Homo sapiens: one gene and its partners. The protein of the gene in region 3 purifies or fractionates together with the protein of the main gene of each other region. This does not show direct contact. Each region holds a gene or a part of one and is shown on either strand. Other genes may lie near its edges.

Region 1 (8,556 bases), on a different chromosome or scaffold from region 3:
CTGGAAGTGTAGCAGGAGGTCGTCCCTTTGAGGCCAGGGAGCAATGCACAGCTCCTCTGGCAAACCAGGGCCATAGCCAGGGCTCCCTTGCCCAGGTTTGGGGCAGGGGCACTCTCTTTAAGCTGGAGAATCCTACCTCTTTCTCTTCTCTAAGCTTATTTCCTTAAACTTCATCCTATCTTAGGCTTTTGACTTTTGGAAACAAAAGTTACAAAGAGTTCCAGGATGACTCTGTATTCCTCCCCGACTTGTACTTTCCCCAAGGCACTGACACACAGAACTTGCTACAAATGGACAGTTAAAATGAAGAGAGGAAAATGAAAGATTTTTTATTTCTTTGTTTTTTTGAGACGGAGTCTCACTCTGTCACCCAGGCTGGAGTGCAATGGCGTGGTCTCAGCTCACTGCAACCTCTGCCTTCCGGGTTCAAGCGACTCTCCCGCCTCAGCCTCCTGAGTAGATGGGACTACAGGCGTGTGCCACCACACCTGGCTAATTTTTGTATTTTTGGAAGAGACGGGTTTTCACTATGTTGGCCAGGCTGGTCTCGAACTCCTGACCTCGTGATCTGCCCACCTCGGCCTCCCAAAGTGCTGGGATTACAGGCGTGAGCCACCGCACCCGGCCTGGAAAATGAAAGATTTTTAAACCCATAAATATCTCAAAACATTATCCAGCCATATGGTATGGGACCAGGTGCATAAAGTTAAGGCAATGCTGAGACCTCCAGGTTATTCCACTGGCTACAACAGCAGCCTAAAAGAAAGAAAGAAAGAAACTTGGGGTATCCTTCTCTAAACTCTAATATAGAAAGGAAATGCATATCTAGTAACATGTTTCTTTGTCTAATTATCCTCCTACAATCAGCATCTTAAAATAAGCTAATCTCTTATAAAAAATTTTTGGATGTTAATATGACCATCAGCTCAAAAAGCATTAAAGCCACTTCAATCAAGGGACACAGACTAGGTTTCAAGACACTTAGCTCACATAAATTTCTATAAATTTTAATAGAACTTAATGGTCTTTCCATTTTTTTGTGTGGGAAGGGTAAGCATTATTGATTTTACATTTTAATACATTTTAGGGGCATGATGAACCTGGACAGTAAAAGCATCCTTCCTTCGCCCTACCTAATGCAGAGGAGCTTCCTGAAAGAAATTAGTTTGGAATGAAAGGGGAGCAACTGCCTTGCAGGTAAGGATGGGCAGAGTGGGAGGATCTTTAGGACTTTAGATGTAGGTTTCAAGAAAAACAGCAACATGAAAGTCATGTGTGAGAAGATGTAATTATGAGGCAGATTGAGTTATAAATTATTATACAAAGACAACAAAGACATGAAATCAATCTTTAGAAATGATTCTTCCCAAGTAATAGGAGATAGGAATGTCATGGAAATACTTCAACTGGAAGAAAAGCCATGGAAATACTTCAACTGGAAGAAAAGCCATGGCCTTTCTGCAATAACCTACAATTTCTTTTTCTTTTCTTTCTTTTTTTTTTTTTTGAGATGTTGTCTCACTCTGTTGCCCAGGCTGGAGTGCAGTGGTGCTATGTCGGCTCACTGCAACCTCCGCCTCCCAGGTTTAAGTGATTCTCCTGCCTCAGCCTCCTGAGTAGCTGGGATTACAGACGCCCGCCACCACGTCTGGCTAATTTTTGTATTTTTGGTTGAGACGGGAGTTTCACCATGTTTGTCAGGCTGGTCTCAAACTCCTGACCTCAGGTGATCTGCCCGCCTCAGCCTCCCAAAGTGCTGGGATTACAAGCGTGAGCCACCATGCCCGGCCGTAACCGGGCATGGTTACGTAGGTTTACAATTATAGGTTTACAATTTCTATTTCTTGTTCCTATCCACTCCCTTTTGCATCTGATGTCACCAATAATCTTCTCCAAGGAAAAAAAAACAGAAAACACAAATAAGAATTATATTTTATAGTGATTATAATGATCAGAATTCCTCAGACTTCTTTCTGCTGTCATTTTGCTGTGATGTTCGAGCAGCTCATATTTCAGCCCTAATCAGATCTCTGCTGTAATCTGAATATATATTTAATACAATGCTAGAGATAGAGAAATTTTCAAAGTTAAGTAGAGATCAGTTAAAATACCATTACTGTTTACTCTGTGTCTTTTGAATTCTATTATATTTATATTTGTTTACATTTTGAAAACCAAGCCATTTAAAACAGGGATCCCTTCAAAGAGAACATTTATGTGGCATTTTGTTGCAGGAAAAGGTAACTGTAAAACACATGTGCCTCTAATTCAAGGCCAGTTAACCTCAAGTTATTACAGTTGAGATAAATCATATTTTTAAAAATACTTTTTAACCCTTGTTCACTCACTTTTTAAGCCAATAAAAACAGCAAGAATTAACTTGGTCACTTTTTTGTAACCCAAATGCAAACCATGGGTGCAATCCCATAAAATTTTAGCCACGGATATAATTCCAAAGGTTTGAAAGTCCCATCTTCTTTATTGCTCCTGTCTTTGGGACAAAGCCCAATTTCCCCTATAATACCAACACAAATTATAAAAAGAGAGTAATTGATCTCACTGTATTTTCCAAACTTGTTGCTTGTTACTGTCATTAAGCTACTGTCAAGTCTCATCTAGCACCTCCTGTGACACCACCTTCTTTTTTTTTTTTTTTTTTTGAGACGGAGTTTGGCTTTCGTTGCCCAGGCTGGAGTGCAATGGCATGATCTCGGCTCACTGCAACCTCCACCTCGTGGGTGCAAGCAATGCTCCTGCCTCAGCCTCCCAAGTAGCTGGGATTACAGGCATGCGCCACCATGCCCGGCTAATTTTGTATTTTTATTAGAGATGGGGTTTCTCCATGTTGGTCAGGCTGGTCTCAAACTCCCAACCTCAAGTGATCCGCTCACCTCAGCCTCCCAAAGTGCTGGGATTACAGGCGTGAGCCACCGCACCCGGCCCGACACCACCTTCTATATCAGACTTTGCTGCCTCTTCATGAGATGCAACTAAACTTAAGAGACAAAGCAGAGCTCAAATCTATTTTTAAAAGACTTTATAATAAATTGTAATCCCAGGTAGAAATTTTCTATTTCTCATTATCCACAAAATTCTTCTCCATTAAGCACAGGTCATCAAGTAACCCTGACATCAAGTAACCCTGGCATACTGTTGTAACAAGTAGGATTTTCAAATTACTAACACACCTGTAAAAGCCAGAGAGTTGTGTGTCACCAGAAACACATGTGTGCCCTATGTATTAAGGTACTAAATAGAAAGCACCATTTGCTGTGTGTGTGACAGTACTGATTCCATGTTAGAAGAAAGCTTGCTTACTTGAATACAATTATTACTTTGCTTGATTTTGTAGATCATTCACTAAAATCAGCCTCAGAAAAACAGGATCTTGAACAGAGATAAAAGAAAATACCTAGATCAGCCTCTCTGTGAATGGGCTGACCGACCTAATAAGAATAGGCTGATGGTACCTGCAGAAAGCCACAAAATATTGACCAAGAAAGCAATGATTTACTGCCGACCTGAGACTGCACACGTTTCACAAAAATCTTTTTATCATCCTTTCTCTTAATTGCCCTTAAAAACCAGAGGTGGTCTTTGAACGCTAGCTCACTGCATCCCCCAGGGTTGCTGGTCTCTTGAATAAAGCTAACTTTACTTTCACTACAGCTCTTCTCTTGGGTTTTTGGCTTTCAAGTGACAAGTGGCCCAGATGTGAGTTTCCTTACGTGTGCTCAGGAGAATTTCCTGCCATACCTACTGAAATCTGTCCCTGATCAAAGTGGTGGACCATATGACTGCAGATTGGCCTTGCGAAGTAGCTCATGCCTGTAATCCCAACACTTTGGGAGGCAGAGGTGGGAAGCTTGCTTGAGGCCAGGAGTTTAGGACCACCCTGGGCAATACAGTGAGACCCCCGTCTCTACAAAAACAAAAAATAAAAATTAGCCAGGCATGGTAGTCCACACCTGTAGCTCCAGCTACTTGGGAGGCTGAGGCAGGAAGATCGCTGGAGCCTAGGAGTTCAAGGCTGCAGTGAACCATGATCCTGCCACGGCACTCCAGTGTGGACAACAGAGTGACACTTAAAAAAAAAAAAAACACTGAAGATCAACAGGTTATGATTGCAAATTTTAAGATATTTTGAACACACTATTTTCTTAAGCAGTTGGGAGTATGTTTAATAGCCTATTGAATGAGTATCTCAAAATCCTATTGAAGTTACTATTTGGCAATGAGAAACTAATTCACTGATAATTATACATGCAAAGAAACTAATTATTAAAATAAGTTTTCATTTTGTTAGATAACTTTATAACGTTAAAAAATGGAAAAGTCCTGTAGGGAATGATTTGGAACATGGCCCAGATCCCAGTCACAGGACCAAGGCACTCAATCCCCCAGCTGCTGGGAGTGTTGGTTGCTTATTGCTCACAGCTGAGTCCCTTCCTGCACATCTCACTCTCCAAAAGCCTTAACCCAGCGTTTTGCTTCCTCCCCAGAAACATCCCACATTTAATGAGCAGTCAGTAAGAGGGTCTAAAGGTCTGCCCCCTGGCCTCAATTCAGGATGACTCTGAAAGGAAATCCCGGCTCCAGAGCCCTTACTGGATTGCCTGAGGCCTCTATTACAAATTGTTCACAGTTCAACTTCTTTCTCCCTCCGCCCAACCCGGCCTCCCTCACTCCATTATAGGTGTTGTTCTTAAGAGCACACTCCAATTACCCTCCTGCAAACCAGTCTCCCCCCCAACTCAGAGTCCAGGGAATTCTACCTAAGACGATTTTGAAAGCGGTCCTAGAAATCAGGCTCTAACATGGGATTTTGAAGCTAGATCACCTGCCAGCCAGCTGCCAATAAGAACCTCATCCCTGGTCAGTATTCAGAGCACCTGTCACGCTGCACGATGTGATTACTAACTTGAATCCACTCATGCTAAGCTGTGTCCCAACCTAGTTAACTGTATTTAAAATAAATAAACCACAGGACTTGATGCATGTACTTTATTGCACTGAGTTTTTCTTGCTATACCTTGGACAAGACTGCCACCTCCTGGAAGAGCCGATGAATACTGGGGACGAGGTGCAATTAGGGAATCGGTACTATGAAATTGCTTGCGTCTCAGCAGCAACTCCCTATCTCTCCGCGAACTTAAACCAATTCCTAACCTTTCTCAACCTCTGTGAACAGCTTTTTGCATGGAACCAAGACTTCAAAGAACTTGCGCATCACAATCTTTTTACGTGAAAATGTAAATACAAGTTAGCATTTGTGAAGCGTTATGTGCCAAATGCTTTAATTTTTAAGGCTCACAACAGCCTTATGAGGTAGGAACTATCATAAGCAGATCCACACTGCTGATGGAAAAATTAAGTTTAAGGGAACGTAAGGCGACGGCTCTGAGGCGGAATCGCCACTTGGAGTCGGGACTCAACTGCTGAGAGCGCAAGCTCCGTAACTACGTAACCGTCTCGGGCATGCGCAGAAAAACACTGAAGCACCTTCCCTAGGAGCTGTAAGTAGGTGGGTGTGGTGGGAGCCTCTGCAATCCCAGCATTCCCTTCGTGCCGCTACCAAGATGGCGGCGCCCATCTTGCGGTCCTTTTCCTGGGGCCGGTGGTCTGGTACCCTAAATCTCTCAGTATTGTTGCCCTTGGGGCTGCGTAAGGCCCACTCGGGCGCTCAGGGGTTACTGGCAGCGCAGAAGGCTCGAGGTCTGTTCAAGGACTTCTTCCCGGAGACGGGGACGAAAATAGAGCTCCCAGAGCTCTTCGACCGTGGCACGGCGAGTTTTCCCCAAACCATTTACTGTGGCTTCGACCCCACGGCAGACTCGCTTCATGTGGGTCATCTACTTGCGCTGCTGGGCCTGTTTCATTTGCAGCGAGCGGGCCACAACGTGATCGCGCTGGTGGGAGGCGCCACGGCGCGCCTGGGAGACCCGAGCGGCCGTACCAAGGAACGCGAGGCGCTGGAGACAGAGCGCGTGCGAGCCAACGCGCGAGCTCTGCGCCTAGGGCTTGAGGCCCTGGCGGCTAATCACCAGCAGCTTTTCACTGATGGGCGCTCCTGGGGCAGCTTCACTGTGCTGGACAACTCGGCCTGGTACCAGAAGCAGCACCTGGTGGACTTCCTGGCGGCAGTGGGGGGTCACTTCCGCATGGGGACGCTGCTGAGCCGGCAGAGCGTGCAGCTGCGGCTCAAGAGCCCCGAGGGCATGAGCTTGGCCGAGTTCTTTTACCAGGTGCTCCAGGCCTATGACTTCTATTACCTCTTCCAGCGTTATGGATGCAGGGTCCAGCTGGGCGGATCTGATCAACTAGGCAACATCATGTCCGGATATGAGTTCATCAACAAGTAAGTGCCTTTAAACCTTGGGGAAATCCTGGGACCAAATAATTTACACACTAGTAGCCTGTGATTCACTCTTAGGATTGTAGTTGCTGCCCTTCGTTCCAGCTCTTGTTGGTTTTATCCCCATTAAGGCTCTATAATGGCGTTAATAACACTGGCTAATAAGAATTAAAGGGCTGAATTAAGGGTATTAAGAGTAAACGGTGTATTCTAAAAATTAGCTGGGCGTGGTGATGCACGCCTGTAATCCCAGCTATTCGGGAGGCTGAGGCAGGAGAATCTCTTGAACCCGGGAGGCGAAGGTTTCAGTGAGCCGAGATCGCGCCACTGCACTCCAGCCTGGGGCAACAGAGGGAGACTCCGTCTCAAAAAAAAAAAAAAAAAAAAGGGAAACAGACCACTAGTGAAGATTTGGTCGGTCTGTTTTGCTTCGCCTAAGTCGTCCTCTCTAATTAGAGAAACTGCTTTTGTGTGTTTATACCAGAACGTGACTGGGCCTCCTTGAGTAGCTAGCCTCTGCTTTAGCTCTGCACCCTCCATGAAACTAGTGTTAGTCCTTGGTTGGTATCTCAAAAAGTTTTTTCAACTCCAAATAATTGACAAGTAATGCGGGTCTAATAGCATTTTCTTGAGAGAGGTGAAGGATAGGGCTAGCTCATGTGCAACAGAGCAAAGCACATGTTTAAAAGGCGTTTAGAAGATTTCCTTTAGTGTCTCTTCCTGACACCCCTTCACCCAGTTTTCTCCTTCCCACTCAGCCTTTCAAAATCTCTAGTCCATTGTTATGTAGCACTTCCCCTTGGCCTGCCTAGAACCTGCCTGGAACCACTCATGAGGTTCAGAATGAATAGAGTAAGTACTGTAACAATACATAAGAGGAACAAGAATTCAGATTTAGGAGGTCAAGGAAGTTTTCCTGGAGCAAGTAACCAGAAAGAAATCTGGAAGGTGAACAGTAGAACCTACCACCACTTGTGCTTGAGGCACATAATGAAATTGTTCTTTATGCGTAGGTTGACTGGAGAAGATGTATTTGGAATCACCGTTCCTCTAATTACAAGTACAACTGGAGCAAAGCTGGGAAAGTCTGCTGGCAACGCTGTTTGGCTAAACAGAGATAAGACATCTCCATTTGAATTGTATCAATTCTTTGTCAGGCAACCGGACGATTCAGTGGAAAGGTGAGTTCTGAATAATGGGCTGAGAAAAACTGACACCATAAACTCATGATGTAATTTTAGCCATTGAATCTATGTACATTTTATAGTTTTTTTGTTTTTAACGTAGTTTCTGTCTGTACATAAACCATTACATCATAGAAGACTAATTTTTACTGTGTTCTAAAGTTAAACACTTTGTTGGTTAAAGCAGAAAAACAGTGGGTGGCTAGAAAATGTAGAGCCAACTTTTTGATCTGTATCTAGCAAGTTCTTAGGATTTTATCACCTGCATATTCTAGTTTTTTCACTCCTTTCAACTTAACCTTGACTACCCTTATTTTTCCTTTGTCTCTCTTCTCTCACAAATATGACTTTAAAGATCCTCTTAAGAAATGATTTCTCCTTAAATCAAATTGCCTTAAACTCTTGGAAGAATATGAATTAATGAGAAACAAATATACCTGCAACAAAAAGTGAAAAAAATATTTTGATGCTCTGTAACATCAAAGTAATCTAGGAATAATTCTTTAAGACTTAAAAGGTATATGACTTTCCTGCAAAATATTAAAAGATGCTATTGAGCAAAATAAAGACCTACATAAATGGAGAGTTAGACCATATTCATAGTACAAAAATAATATCAGTTCTTTTTTGTATTTTTTGAAACAGAATCTCACTCCCATTGCCCAGGCTAGAGTGTAGTGACGCAGTCTTGGCTCACTGTAGCCTGAAATTCCCAGGCTCAGGTGCACACCACCATGCCCAGCTAATTTTGTATTTTTTTTTTAGTAATGGTGGAGTTTCACCTTGTTCCCCAGGCTGGTCTCAGACTCCTGGACTCAAGCGATAAACCTGCCTCAGACTCCCAAAGTGCTGGGATTACAGCATGAGCCCCCGCACCCGGCCAAGATACCAGTTCTGGATTTGATCTACATTTAGTACAGTGCCAACCATATCTAAACCGGCTTTTTGTGGAACTTGACAAGCTCATTGTAACACTGACATAGAAATAAAAAGGGCTAAGATTGGCCAAGATGTTTT
Region 2 (7,720 bases), on a different chromosome or scaffold from region 3:
TGAAATGAAAATAAATAATCCTCTACATTAGCGGTAGGTATAGAGAGCTGTCACAACTTCCTAACTCATCTCTCACCATCCGGTCTCTACACTGTCCAATAATTACAAAAAAAGGGAACTTCTAAACTGCAAATCTAATAAACTAGTCTATCTATTTAAAACACTGTCAGTGATCTTCTGTTGCTCTTAGGATAGAATCTAATCAGGGCTTCCGATATCCTGCCTAATTCTTTTTCAAGGCTTACAATATCCTGCCTAATTCTACCATCTCTTCCAGTGTGCACCATCACTCTATACTTACTGTCTTGAGAAGGTTATGTTACCTTTTGCCTTCAAGCCTGTGTGTGGGTTACTTCTTCCTCTTGGACCACCCTTGCTTTATCCCCATCTCTTCCACTCTTGCCCTCATCTGGCTCATTTCTATTTAAACTTCAGGTGTTAATTTAGCTGACAGCAATGCTACCTGGATTTCCAAAGTCTGGAGTATATGTCCCACTTTTCTCTTCCATGGCACCAGGTATTCATCATTACCCAACGAAATATCACACTAGACTATGGCAGAAAGGGGGCAGCAACTATGCTAACCACTACAGAGCAGTACCTAGCATGTCTATCATTTCATATTATTCAAATTATTCATATATATTCAAAATATTCCTTCATATTATTCAAATAGTTAGATCTTTCTTTCTCTCTCTCTCTGAAAACCTCCTTATTTTGGAGCTGCAAAGAAAAAAGGAAGATAACTTCATAACTATTCATTTGTGGGCTCAAAATGTCAGAATAGAAGAGGTACCTTGTATAATACCATGCATGTCAGACAGTAAAGTTAAAGTGACATAGTTGATCTCAAATACATCATTCTACATCCTTAATCATAGAATGACATTTCAAAAGTTTCAACTATTAATCTGTGGCATAAAAGACAGAATAATAAAAACAACAAATCAGACTCATAAAGTGGGAGATTATAAAACTCACAACCTTAGAGGAAGTAGGCCACTAAAATTACACGTTAAAAAAGAAAGTACATCACCCTTCCCGTGGTGACACATGTTTTAAGCAAATCACAAGTGAGCCGTAAATCACTTACAGGCTCACTTTACAATCTCATCTGTAAAAAAAAGCACCGAATCTAACAGAAGTTTATTCTGAGAAGGTAGTGTATTACCTCTTTCATCAAATAGAACAATGATTCTCATTAATGGGAAGATATTAAATGTGAGATTTTCAAACAACATGAGGTTTTCTGTTCTTTCTACAAATAATTCTTCCTCTAAGCAGGACATATAAGTAGAATGGTACATACTTTCATGGCTTGATGAAGCTTCTCTGCAAAGAAAGCTGGTTTGCTTGTGGCGCACTTCACTGTTAGAGAAGAAAATTTTAGTTGATGTATTTACCATGAAAAAAATGAAATATCCATATGAAAGAAACAGGAAATATAGAATTTTGCCAACAGTGTTCTATCCCTCATCATCATTCTTCACCTCTCATCTCCCAATATAGGGCAGTTAACTTCTGAGAAGGTATTTGTGACTCTCTAGATGGTGGTTTTGAATATTCTTTTCCCTGACGATCAATTTTTTTATTACCTTAAATACATCTCAAGAGCAACTTCAGTAGTTTGCGCTATCCAACATATATTCTCCTTGGGAGTGGAGAAGCCACTAGGTGTTCAAGCCTATGTAAATACTTTATTTATGTTACTATAAGAACATTTAAAAAGAACACCCTATGAACAACAGACACTGCAGACTACTAGAGAGGGCAGGGAGAGAAGGGGCATTGGTCAAAAAACTACTTATTGGGTACTATGCTCACTGCCTGAGTGCAGAACACCCATGGAACAAACGTGCACATGTACCTCTGTGTCTAAAGTAAGAGTTGCACAAACAAATAAGTAAAAATAAATGAATAAATGAAGAAAAAACTCTGGGATAGGATGGGCTTAAATATAAAACAGAACCCAAATAATACTAGCACATTCCAGTTCATAGTGTTCTTCATCTTGTCGAGATCTATGGACCAACAGCATTGGCATCAATGGGGAGCTTGTTAGAAAAGCAGAATCTAAGCTCCACCCCAGACCTGGGGAATCAGAATCTGCATTTTAACAAGCTTTCCAGGGGATTCAAGTGCATAGTCATGAATGAGAAACACTGCTTGAGAACATAGGTTCCCCAACCCTGATGGTTGTCTGAATAACCTGGGAGATCTTTAAAAAGTACCGATTTTTAGAGGCCAACTCGGACCCACTGAATCAGACTCTCCTGGACCTGCCCAAGATTGTACAATTAACAAGCAGTAGACCAGGACTTGAAGTTACATTTATCCAGATGTTACATTTATTCCAGATCCCATGCTCTCAGTGACCATTCTGAATTGCCTCTGTGGTGTGCCCAGCCTGGTACATTGTTTGATATAAGTAGGTGCTCAATAAGTATAGTCTATCTCTCTCTATTTTTGAAAAGGGGAATAATATCTATTGTTATTAAGGTTATAGTACTTTGCCAATCTTTTACGTTGCTTCAATTGAAACAGATGCACTACTTCTGATTGTTTTTTGTTTTCTTTTATTGGTTTTGTTGCTGTTGTTCTTGTTAAGTATAGGATAGCTTTGAAAATACAATTTCTAGTTAGAAAACTCTTTCAACTGCTGGACTACATACCGATAGCTGTGAGGCATTTCTCAATGTCACCTTTCAACTCCAGGTCCAGAACTTTGTTCATGTCATGCTTACTGTACTTGGTGTATTTCTGAAACACTGAATATTAAATTCAAACTAAGATACATGCAAAACATCCTTTTCTTTAGAAAGCTTTAGCAAAATCAAGGCAACTGACTCAAAGAATTTTTTAGAATAACAACTTTGGCTACACCTTTTAAAGCAATATACCCAATTAATCATAACGTGAATACTTCATCCTCTCCTAGGAATGTAACTTACCTGGCCATTTTGGTATTCCTATATATTTTGGCGAAATGTTTGCAAATGTTGACAGTTATTAGAAACGGCATGTGATTGACAACTATAGCACTTCCTACAGCAGTTCTAAGAGCCACAGCAAATGGATCTTCCCTTATATAAAGACCTGTGCACTAAATTTCTCTTACATTTAACAGTAGAAATCAGTATACTATTATAAGATGGTGAACTTTGGTAATTGTCATAACTTTTCCATCGCCTTCACTTCCAAGAGGCCCAGAGCTAAATCTTGCACTCAAAGGCCAGGACTTTTTCTGAGTTTTGTCTTGTTGTTGTTTTTCCAAAGCACCTACATATTTCTTTCTTCATTTAGCTCTGAGGGTTTTTTGTTTTTTTTTTTTTGTTTTTCTTCATTCTAATTTCATTTGTTCTGTTATGCATGTCTTTTCCCACACATATTCCAAATCTTTTAGGGGAGTAAAAGCAGTGAAAATAACAAAATTATGTTCCACATGCCCAAGTCACAAAATGTATTAAATATGATAAAGTAGCGGCTGTACAAAATTGGACAAATTGACAAATAACAATGGGTCAGGAACACTGTATCTGTTTGATACAGGAGTGATATTGAAAAAGGGTTCTGTTTTTACTTTCTCTTATTTGTCATCAAAAAAGAAAATTGCATCTTCCATAAACAGATTCCAGAAAAAGAAATTTATTGTTACCTCTGCGAAGTTGTGGATAGCTTCTGGTGGTAAGGATGGTATTGAACACGTTTACGTCTGTCCCCTTTCTCCTTTCTCCTGCTTCATACAAGGCCTGTCAAGAAACACAAAAGTAAACACTTCACTATCTGCTGAAATGATATCTGCACAATAATGTTAGACCTTGTCAAAGATTATATAGGCAATCGCTTTGTGCCCAATACAATCAGAGTAGTCAACAATAAGATTGCAAGTTCTTTAAAGATAGGGACCTTATTTTGTTTGTCAAATATCTTCCACAGTTTCTCTCAAGGTGCCTTGTAAACACTAGAGTCTGAATATATGTTTGCAGAATAAATGTTTGCTGAACTAAATTGCTTTAAGATTATGCTCTATAGTAAGACAACTCCAAGGGGATCTCTAAAGATTTTTTACTCTGTGTTGTTCAAAGTAATTATCAGCAAATGTTACTTATAAATCAATAATTCAACCGTAACCTGGACCTTGCATTTTGATGTTAGAATTTCTGTATTCAAATTCTGACTCTGCAATTTCAAAGCTGCATAATCTTAGACAAATAGATCAACCTTACTAAATGACAGATTTTTTTCTTTTATATATGAAAAATATAATCCCTGCCCTATTGTCACAAGCGGTCTTTATTAACTTTGAAATGTTGACTACCATCATTCTCTTGGGTCACACTAATCCATGTAACCTCCATAAATATATATTAAGAACCCTGATAGTCTTAAAATGGAAAGCAAATTCAGAAATGTCAAAAGCAAATAAGAATTTTTTATTATGGGCAATTATTCAAATGCTAACTCTTGTTCCTTAATATGCTTGAACAATTTCTATTAAAATGATAAAACCTTCAATGTATGTAAAAATTATTTTGCATTTTTCAAGCAAATTGATCTGATATGTATGCATTTGTTGAACAAAAAGTTCATGAGTGCCTATTATGTACATGATAATGTACTGGTATAGCAGAAGTGGATGGGGGTGCACAAAGAAATCTCTATCCTTAGTGAAGCACTGTAATGAATTCTCTAGAGAATACTGTTCCATGAGAAGGCATAATGCAAATATTAGTTGTTTGTTTGTTTTAAATGGAAATTCCAGGCTTTAAAATGATATGATTTTTCTTATGTTGCCAGTGGTTTGGCATATAAATAATCAGCAATGTCACTGAAACTAAATAAAACAATATGTTAGAAAGCATATATTATTATAATTTATCCTATACTCTTGTTATATCATTGCAGTAATATTTTGACAATATAAATTGACATCTATAAACCATTCCAAAGTTCTCTGTTAAAAATAACGTTAAATATGCTTACTCTTTCCATTGCACATAATAAAAAAATTACATTTCCCCTTCTTATACCTAGTACAACGAAAGGTCAGAGTTTTTTTTAACAAACAATTCTTGGGAATGACAAATCAAATTTGTATTGTCCTTCTTCAGTTCTCTCTGGTTTTACGAATAATGAGAGATATTGAAAACTTACAAAGACTACTTTTTTGTGTGTGGGGGCTACAGAAAGACATGCCTCATTCAGGAAATGAACATTAAGAAGCCATTGGTCTCTCAGAAGATCTTAGATTTGCTTTCACAGGGGATCATGTGGTAGCCCCACTTAAGGTAGGAAGATGAACTGCAGCAGTATTTTGTAAGCACTTCCTTACCCTGGCATCTGAATCAGCCAAGTCTTCATTCACACCAAAGTCCTCAGATCGGTCACCCTGAAAGAAATCCCATTCTATTGTAAGCTCTTCTCTAGCATGTAATTGCATGATTTACTTAATTATCTTAAACTCAGATAAATAATATTTTTTGAGAAAAAGGTATTCTATTACTCATTTCTAGAAGGAGCTCAGATACAAGATTTTACTTGCGATGGTTTTAGATGTTCTTCCCCTCCAAACCTCATGTTGAAATTTGATCCCCAGTGTTAAAGGTGGGGCCTAGAGGGAGGTATTTGGGTCCTGGGGCTGATCTCTCATGAAGAGATTAATGCCGTCACTGGGAATGAGTTCTTGCTCATGAGAACCACGAGAGCTGGTTGTTAACGAGGCTGGCACCTCCCCATTCTCTCTCTTGCTTCCTTTCTTGCCATGTGGTCTCTGCACACACCAGCTCCCTTTCCTCTTCTGTCAGGAGTGGAAGCAGCCTGAGGCTCTCACCAGACATAGATACCCAAACTTGAATTTGTTAGCCATCAGAATCCTGAGCCAAATAAACCTTTTTATCTTTAAAAATTACCTAGCCTCAGATATTCCCTTATAGCAACACAAAATGGACTAAGAAATTAGTCTTTATAAAACAAGAGGCATTTCCTAAAGTATCTGAGTTGTACCTTAGCAAGAGAAAGCAAAGCGTTCCGAAAATCTCCAGATGTGTCTGAGGTTATGTCTTTGGCCAGATCTCTCTTCAGTTCTGAGAAAAAAGAAAAATAGATTTTATAGTAAACCAGTGATGAATAATAATAAGAATATCTGACATCTCTAAGTTGGTTGAAAATTCACAGTGCCACAGTGTTCAATGACTTATGGAACATGTTGCAAAATATTATCATTTTTAAATAAGAAGAGAAAAATTAAAGCAGGTAAATTTTTGGATCATTGAATTTATTTCATATGAAGCAATGGGAGCAATTTAGATAATACTGTGATTGAAAACTCACAGTCATAAAGCTTTCGTTAAGAATAAATTGTATAGGTATACATTAGTAATTAATTCTGAAATACAACATGGCAGAATTTAAGCAATAGAATGAATAAAATAATTGTTTAAAAGAACAAAATGAGGTACTTGCTTGAATGCAAATTATTTATTTAGTTTAAAAACTATAAATGTCTTATAAGTAATGCAGTTTGATGATTTATGTGTGTGTAAACACTTCTGCTTAACTACATAAAATAATACTGTAATAGGAAAAAATAATTGAATTTATAATTGACTAGTGCTATGGTTTTCATATTGTTTGTTTGGCCCTGCCAAGTCTCATGTTGCAATTTATTCTCCACTGTTGAAGGTGGGGCCTGTTGGGAGATGTTTGGATGATGGGGGCAGATCCCTCATGAATGGCTCGGAGTGAGTTCTCATTCATAGTTTCTTTAAGAACTGGCTGTTGAAAAGAGCCTGGCACCTCCTTTTCTCTCTCTCCCTCTCTGCACACATCTGCTTCTGTCTGCTTTCTGCCATGAGTAGAAGTAGTATGAGGCCCTCATCAAAAGCAGACGCTGGTCCCATACTACTTGTACAGTATTTCCTTTCTTTTTACATTACTTGGTCTCAGATATTTCTTTATAGCAACACAAACGGACTAAAACAACTTGAAACTGGGCAATGTAATAAACTATCACTGGCCTATATCTTGGCCATATGAAAAATATATAAACACTTATTTTTATAAACTATGTTTTATCAAACAAAAATAATCATCATTATTACCACTGACACATGGATCTAACATAAACATTGGTAATTAAATAAGAATTGCAGAAAATGAGGTTTAAAAGCTTCCTTATTTTTATTCTTTTATTAAATTCCTCTGAAAATGATATGCAAAAGCTATTGTATTCTCCATGCTTGGTATGAGAATCAAGCAGAAAGATCTTCTATATGCCATATATTGCATTGGGAAAGCCAAAAAGCCAGCAGCTCAGGGAAATGAGAGTAGGAAAATGGTAAGAGACTTGCAATTACCCTCTTTTCAGTGTTGAGCACATCATTTAAATGAGATGCTTCACTGGAGAGATAAAATAAGCTAAGACTAGTCTTTTATTCTGTGAATTTAACTAGAGATAAAGTGAGTCTCTTATGTTCATAACGATAAAGTTAAGGTTTCCAACAGAGAATTATAAGCACCTAATTCTTTACTTTTTCAAGGACAAATGAAAAACATTTTGTTAGGAGATTTTTTTGTTATTATATATTCTTTTCAAAAAAAATGACCTTGGGACATTTTTATAAAATACATTCCAGAATAATAGAAAAGTGTTTTTCAGAAATTTTTAAAAATTCAATGCTCTGAATTGAGGTTTCCATTATAATCGTATGTGGCCATTTAT
Region 3 (5,100 bases):
AAACAACAACAAAACTTTCCGCGTGGTGGCTCATGCCTATAATCAATAGGACTTTGGGAGGCCGAGGTGGGAGGATTGCTTGAGTCCAGAAGTTCAAGACCAGCCTGGGCAACATGGCAAAACCCTATCTTTACTTAAAAAACAAAATAAAACACACACACACACACACACAAAAACCTAGCTGGGCAGAGCAGCACATGCCTGTAGTGCTCGGGTGGCTGAGATGGGAGAATCACCTGAGCTCAGAAGATGGCAGCTGCAATAAGCTGAGATCCCGCCACTGTACGCAAGCCTAAACAACCTGAATGAGACCCCGTCTCAAAAAAACAAAACAAAACAAATACCCTCCCTGAGCTTCAGTTCCCCTAATGGTAAAATAGAGAAAATAATACCTATGCTCAGTGTGCAGTCATTTCTCCATGACGGTACTCGTGGCAGGCATTGCTAGTCGATCCATGATACTCTTTCCTCTAACTGCCATCAATTAAAGATGGTACTTGAGATGAAATATTTCTGCAGTTCCACAAACTCATGAGCTTTTTTGTAGAGAACTTATTTAAGAGCTAATATGTACAGAATTTCTAGTAGAATTCTGGCACATGGTAGACAATCGTTACGACATTTGGCTCTGAGTTCCCTGGGGGCCGGGGCAAAATGAGAAACACATTAAGCTACATAGTCTTGTTATCAAAGAAGGGGAAACCTTACTTGTTTCTCAGGAGTTGGTCTAGGTTATAGTCCTGGTGTTAGTGTTTGGCCTGAAGCAGGTCAGTGTTCCTAAGAGTTTCCTTTTTAGTGGGCGAGTTCAAGGGACTTTAACTTGTGTGATTTGTCTGCTTATTCCAGAGAAAGCTCTGGGCTTGTACTCCTCTCCAGCTGTCCCCAGACAGCTAGTCGCCTCCAGAAGTACTTCACCCATGCACGGAGAGCCCAAAGGCCCACAGCCACCTACTGGTGAGAGGTGCTGGGAGGTTCCTAGAGTGGTGGGGAGGTCCCAGCAAGCCACCCTGTGACCTCCTCCTGCCCCTTTCTCAGTGCTGTCACTGATGGGATCCCAGCTGCTTCTGAGGGGAAGATCCAGGCTGCCCTGAAACTGGAACACATTGATGGGGTCAATCTCGTGAGTCCGGGTCTGGGAAGAGGAGGGGTGCTTCTAGATATAGTACCCCTACAGAGAGGAGTCAGGGGTATGGATTTGGGATGGCTGGCTCTCCTGTCCCCTAAAACAGGCAAGTGACCACTGCCTATACTGTGGCCCTGCCCGGAGTCTATTGGGAGCAGGGAGGGTCTGGGTATAGCTCCCAGACCTGTGTAAGGCTTGTTCACTCTTGGCTGGCACCACAGACAGTTCCAGTGAAGGCCCCATCCCGAAAGGACATCCTGGAAGGTGTCAAGAAGACTCTCAGTCACTTTCGTGTGGTAGCCACAGGCTCTGGCTGTGCCCTGGTCCAGCTGCAGCCACTGACAGGTAGGTCTGGCACCCTAGCCAGCCTTTAAAACTGCACTTGATTTGGGAGGCTGAGGCAGGTGGATCACGAGGTCAGGAGTTCAAGACCAGTCTGGCCAAGATGGTGAAACCCTGTTTCAACTAAAAACTACAAAAATTAGCTGGGCACGGTGGCAGGCGCCTGTAAAACCAGCTACTCGGGAGGCTGAGGCAGGAGAATCGCTTGAACCTGGGAGGCAGAAGTTGCAATGAGCCAAGATCATGCCACTGCACTCCAGTCTAGGTGATAGAGGAGACTTCATCTAAAAAAAAAAAAAACTGCACTTGAGCCAGGCGCGGTGGCTCACGCCTGTAATCCCAGCACTTTGGGAGGCCAAGGCGGATGGATCACTTGAGGTCAGGAGTTCGAAACCAGCCAGGCTAACATGGTGAAACCCTGTCTCTACTAAAAATACAAAAATTAGCTGGAGTTGGTGGCACGCACCTGTAATCCTAGCTACTTGGGAGGCTGAGGCGGGAGAATCGCTTGAACCTGGGAGACAGAGGTTGCAGTGAGCGAAGATCACACCATTGCACTCCAGCCTGGGAGACAGAGTGAAACGCTGGCTAAAAAAAAAAAAAACTGCACTTGGCTTAGGGAGGCAAGGAGCTGGGGAGACAGTGGTATCAGCAGCAGCCTGGGGAGCATTTGATGGCCCCCAGAGGTGTATGTGACCAGGCCCAGCTAGAGGAGGCAGCTTCAGGCTAGCACCCCAACAGGAAAGAACAGTCCTTAGGCCCGGTGGCTTCAGCAATTAAATCAGGGTTGCATCTCATCATGAGTGGATCCCACAGCCAGGCAGATTGATAGCTGTGATCGTCCTGACGTGTTATGTGTCCCTCTCTGGATGCAGGGGCCATAGTACTGACCTCACTGAAACATATGATCTGAGAAAGGGGGTGGTGTTTCCCCAAAGGAAAAGGGGAGGAGTGATACTGGGTGGCACAGAACGAGTAGCTGCCCACTGTCTCTCCTGGCTTTCCTGTTGCCCAGTGTTCTCCAGTCAACTACAGGTGCACATGGTACTACAGCTCTGCCCTGTGCTTGGGGACCACATGTACTCTGCCCGTGTGGGCACTGTCCTGGGCCAGCGATTTCTGCTGCCAGCTGAGAACAACAAGCCCCAAAGACAGGTACTCCAGCCCACCTGCCTGCTGCTTTCTGAGGGGTGGAGGGAGAGGTGAGCATGGGCAGCATCTCCAGACCTTATCTGTGCAGCTTGGGACTACTGGGAGGCAGCCCTTTTGGCTCCCAAGGCTGTATCCGTACCCACATCTTGGTGTGTGGCCTTGGGCAAGTAACACTCACTCTCTTGGGCTTCATTCTGTCCATGTGTTCAATAAGGGAGTTGATGTGGCTAATTTCTAAAGCCCTCTTAAGTCTGCCATTCTTTGAGTCTGGTACAAAGGGTCAAAGGCATGCGTGTATTAGGACACCAGATGCCTCTACCTGCTCTAACACACTAAGCCCAGACTACCAGAGTCTTCACACAAGAACTGTGCCCTCATGTTAAGGTCAAATAATGGGAGTGGGCTCTGCTTCAAGCACTAAGTACTCAGGGACCCAGGCTGTTGATACCCAGCCAGATGAGGGGAGACAGTGTAGGTTCAAGTGGATAAGGTTTTTCTGGGCCAGGTGTGGAAGTGGCATACATACTGCCACCCACATTCACTCAGCTAGAGCTCACTCACGTCTCACCAAGCTGTGAGAGGGCTGGGAAATGGAGTTGAGGTGTGTGCCTAGGAGGAAACTGATTGGGTGACCCCCTAGCCAGTCTCTGCTGCAGTGTGAGTGCCTGTGTGAATGTGCACATCTGTGTGCAAAGAGGAAATGATTAACAGTTGCAGAACAGTGGGGAATGGAGGAAGCGCCCGCCTTACTCCCATTTCCCTTAGAGCTGGGTACTCAGCTGCTTGGAAAATGTGGGGCTGAACACAACGTACCTCTCCCGCTCCAGGTCCTGGATGAAGCCCTCCTCAGACGCCTCCACCTGACCCCCTCCCAGGCTGCCCAGCTGCCCTTGCACCTCCACCTACATCGGCTCCTTCTCCCAGGCACCAGGGCCAGGGACACCCCTGTTGAGCTCCTGGCACCACTGCCCCCTTATTTCTCCAGGACCCTACAGTGCCTGGGGCTCCGCTTACAATAGTCCTCCCTCTGTTCCTGACCCCCTCACACACACTGGAAAGTGAGGGTGGGGGCTCTGCAGTCAGACAAACCTAAGATCACATCCTGGACAGGCCACTTGCTTGCTGTGTGGCATTGGGCAAGTAACTTTACCTCTCTGGACTTGTGATAATAAAAGTTCCTACCTCATGTTATGGTTTTGAGGATTTGCTAAGAAAGTAAATGTTTATTACGGATCTTGCTTACTGCTGAGTTGTGCCTGTAATCCCAGCACTTTGGGAGGCCAAGGTGGGCGGATCACGAGGACAGGAATTCGAGACTAGCCTGGCCAACATGGTGAAACCCCGTCTCTACAAAAAGTACAAAAATTAGTTGGGTGTGGTGGTACGCGCCTGTAGTTCCAGCTACTCAGGAGGCTGAGGCAGTGAACCTGGGAGGTGGAGGTTGCAGTGAGCCAAGATCACACCCACTGCCTAGGCAACCGAGCAAGACTCCGTCTCAAAAAAAAAAAAAAATTTGTAGAGATGGTGGCTGGGCTCAGTGGCTCATACCTGTAATCCCAGCACTTTGGGAGGCTGAGGTGGGTGGATCACTTGAGCCCAGGATTTCAAGACCAGCCTGGGCAACATGGCAAAACCCTGTCTCTACAAAATATGCAAAAAAAAATTAGCCAGGTGTGGTGGCATGTGCCTGTAGTCCCAGCTACTTGGGAGGCTGAGGTGGGAGGATGATCTGAGCTCAGGAAGCAGATATTGTAGTGAGCCGAGATCTTGCCACTGCACTCCAGCCTGGGTGAGAGTGAAACCTTGTCTCAAAAAAAAAAAAAAAAAACAATTGAGATGGGGTCTTGCTATGTTGACTAGGCTGGTCTCCTGGCCTCAAGCAATCCACCTGTTTTGGCACCCACCCCCCGCCAATGTGCTGGGATTACAGGCATGAGCCACTGCACCCAGCCTTCTTACTCTATTATATTTTTTAAAGCAGGGTCTCAGTATGTTGCCCAGGCAGGCTACCCTCCAACTCCTGGCCTCAAGCAACCCTCCCGCTTCAGCCTCCTTATCTTTTTTTTGAGACAGAGTCTCACTCTGTTTCCCAGGCTGGAGTGCAGTGGTGTGAGCTCTACTCACTGCAACCTCTGCCTCCTAGGTTCAAGCGATTCTCCTGCTGGGATTACAGGCACGTGCCGCCACACCTGGCTAATGTTTTTGTTGTTGTTTTGTTTTTGAATCTCTGTTTTTAAAGCAGGGTCTCAGTATGTTGCCCAAGCAGGCTACCCTCCAACTCCTGGACTCAAGCAACCCTCCTGCCTCAGCCTTATCTTTCCTTTTTTTTTTTTTTTTTGAGACAGAGTCTCAGTCTGTCGCCCAGGCTGGAGTGAAGTGGCGCGATCTCAGCTCACTGCAACCCCACCTCTGGAGTTCAAGCAATTCTCCTGCCTCAGCCTCCCGAGTAGCTGGGATTACAGGCACATGTCACCATGCCCGGC

The links. The genes of interacting proteins can lie anywhere in the genome.
Region 1: the proteins of RPUSD3 (region 3) and YARS2 purify together in Homo sapiens (affinity purification with mass spectrometry; 2 studies listed by BioGRID and IntAct, with this or other methods). This does not show direct contact.
Region 2: the proteins of RPUSD3 (region 3) and ANXA1 purify together in Homo sapiens (affinity purification with mass spectrometry; 2 studies listed by BioGRID and IntAct, with this or other methods). This does not show direct contact.

What each region holds. Positions count from the first base shown.
Region 1 is NC_000012.12:32,752,898-32,761,453, reverse strand, and holds the start of YARS2 (tyrosine--tRNA ligase, mitochondrial precursor), read left to right. Parts: upstream 1-5,556; 5' UTR 5,557-5,579; coding exon 5,580-6,358; intron 6,359-7,368; coding exon 7,369-7,536; intron 7,537-8,556. UniProt on the Homo sapiens protein: Catalyzes the attachment of tyrosine to tRNA(Tyr) in a two-step reaction: tyrosine is first activated by ATP to form Tyr-AMP and then transferred to the acceptor end of tRNA(Tyr).
Region 2 is NC_000009.12:73,161,145-73,168,864, reverse strand, and holds part of ANXA1 (annexin A1), read right to left. Parts: intron 6,084-7,720; coding exon 6,004-6,083; intron 5,390-6,003; coding exon 5,333-5,389; intron 3,750-5,332; coding exon 3,656-3,749; intron 2,769-3,655; coding exon 2,673-2,768; intron 1,369-2,672; coding exon 1,310-1,368; intron 1-1,309. UniProt on the Homo sapiens protein: Plays important roles in the innate immune response as effector of glucocorticoid-mediated responses and regulator of the inflammatory process. Has anti-inflammatory activity.
Region 3 is NC_000003.12:9,836,552-9,841,651, reverse strand, and holds the end of RPUSD3 (mitochondrial mRNA pseudouridine synthase RPUSD3), read left to right. Parts: intron 1-846; coding exon 847-954; intron 955-1,035; coding exon 1,036-1,120; intron 1,121-1,316; coding exon of another isoform or gene 1,317-1,344; coding exon 1,345-1,468; intron 1,469-2,480; coding exon 2,481-2,620; intron 2,621-3,444; coding exon 3,445-3,636; 3' UTR 3,637-3,803; downstream 3,804-5,100. UniProt on the Homo sapiens protein: Catalyzes uridine to pseudouridine isomerization (pseudouridylation) of specific mitochondrial mRNAs (mt-mRNAs), a post-transcriptional modification necessary for their translation.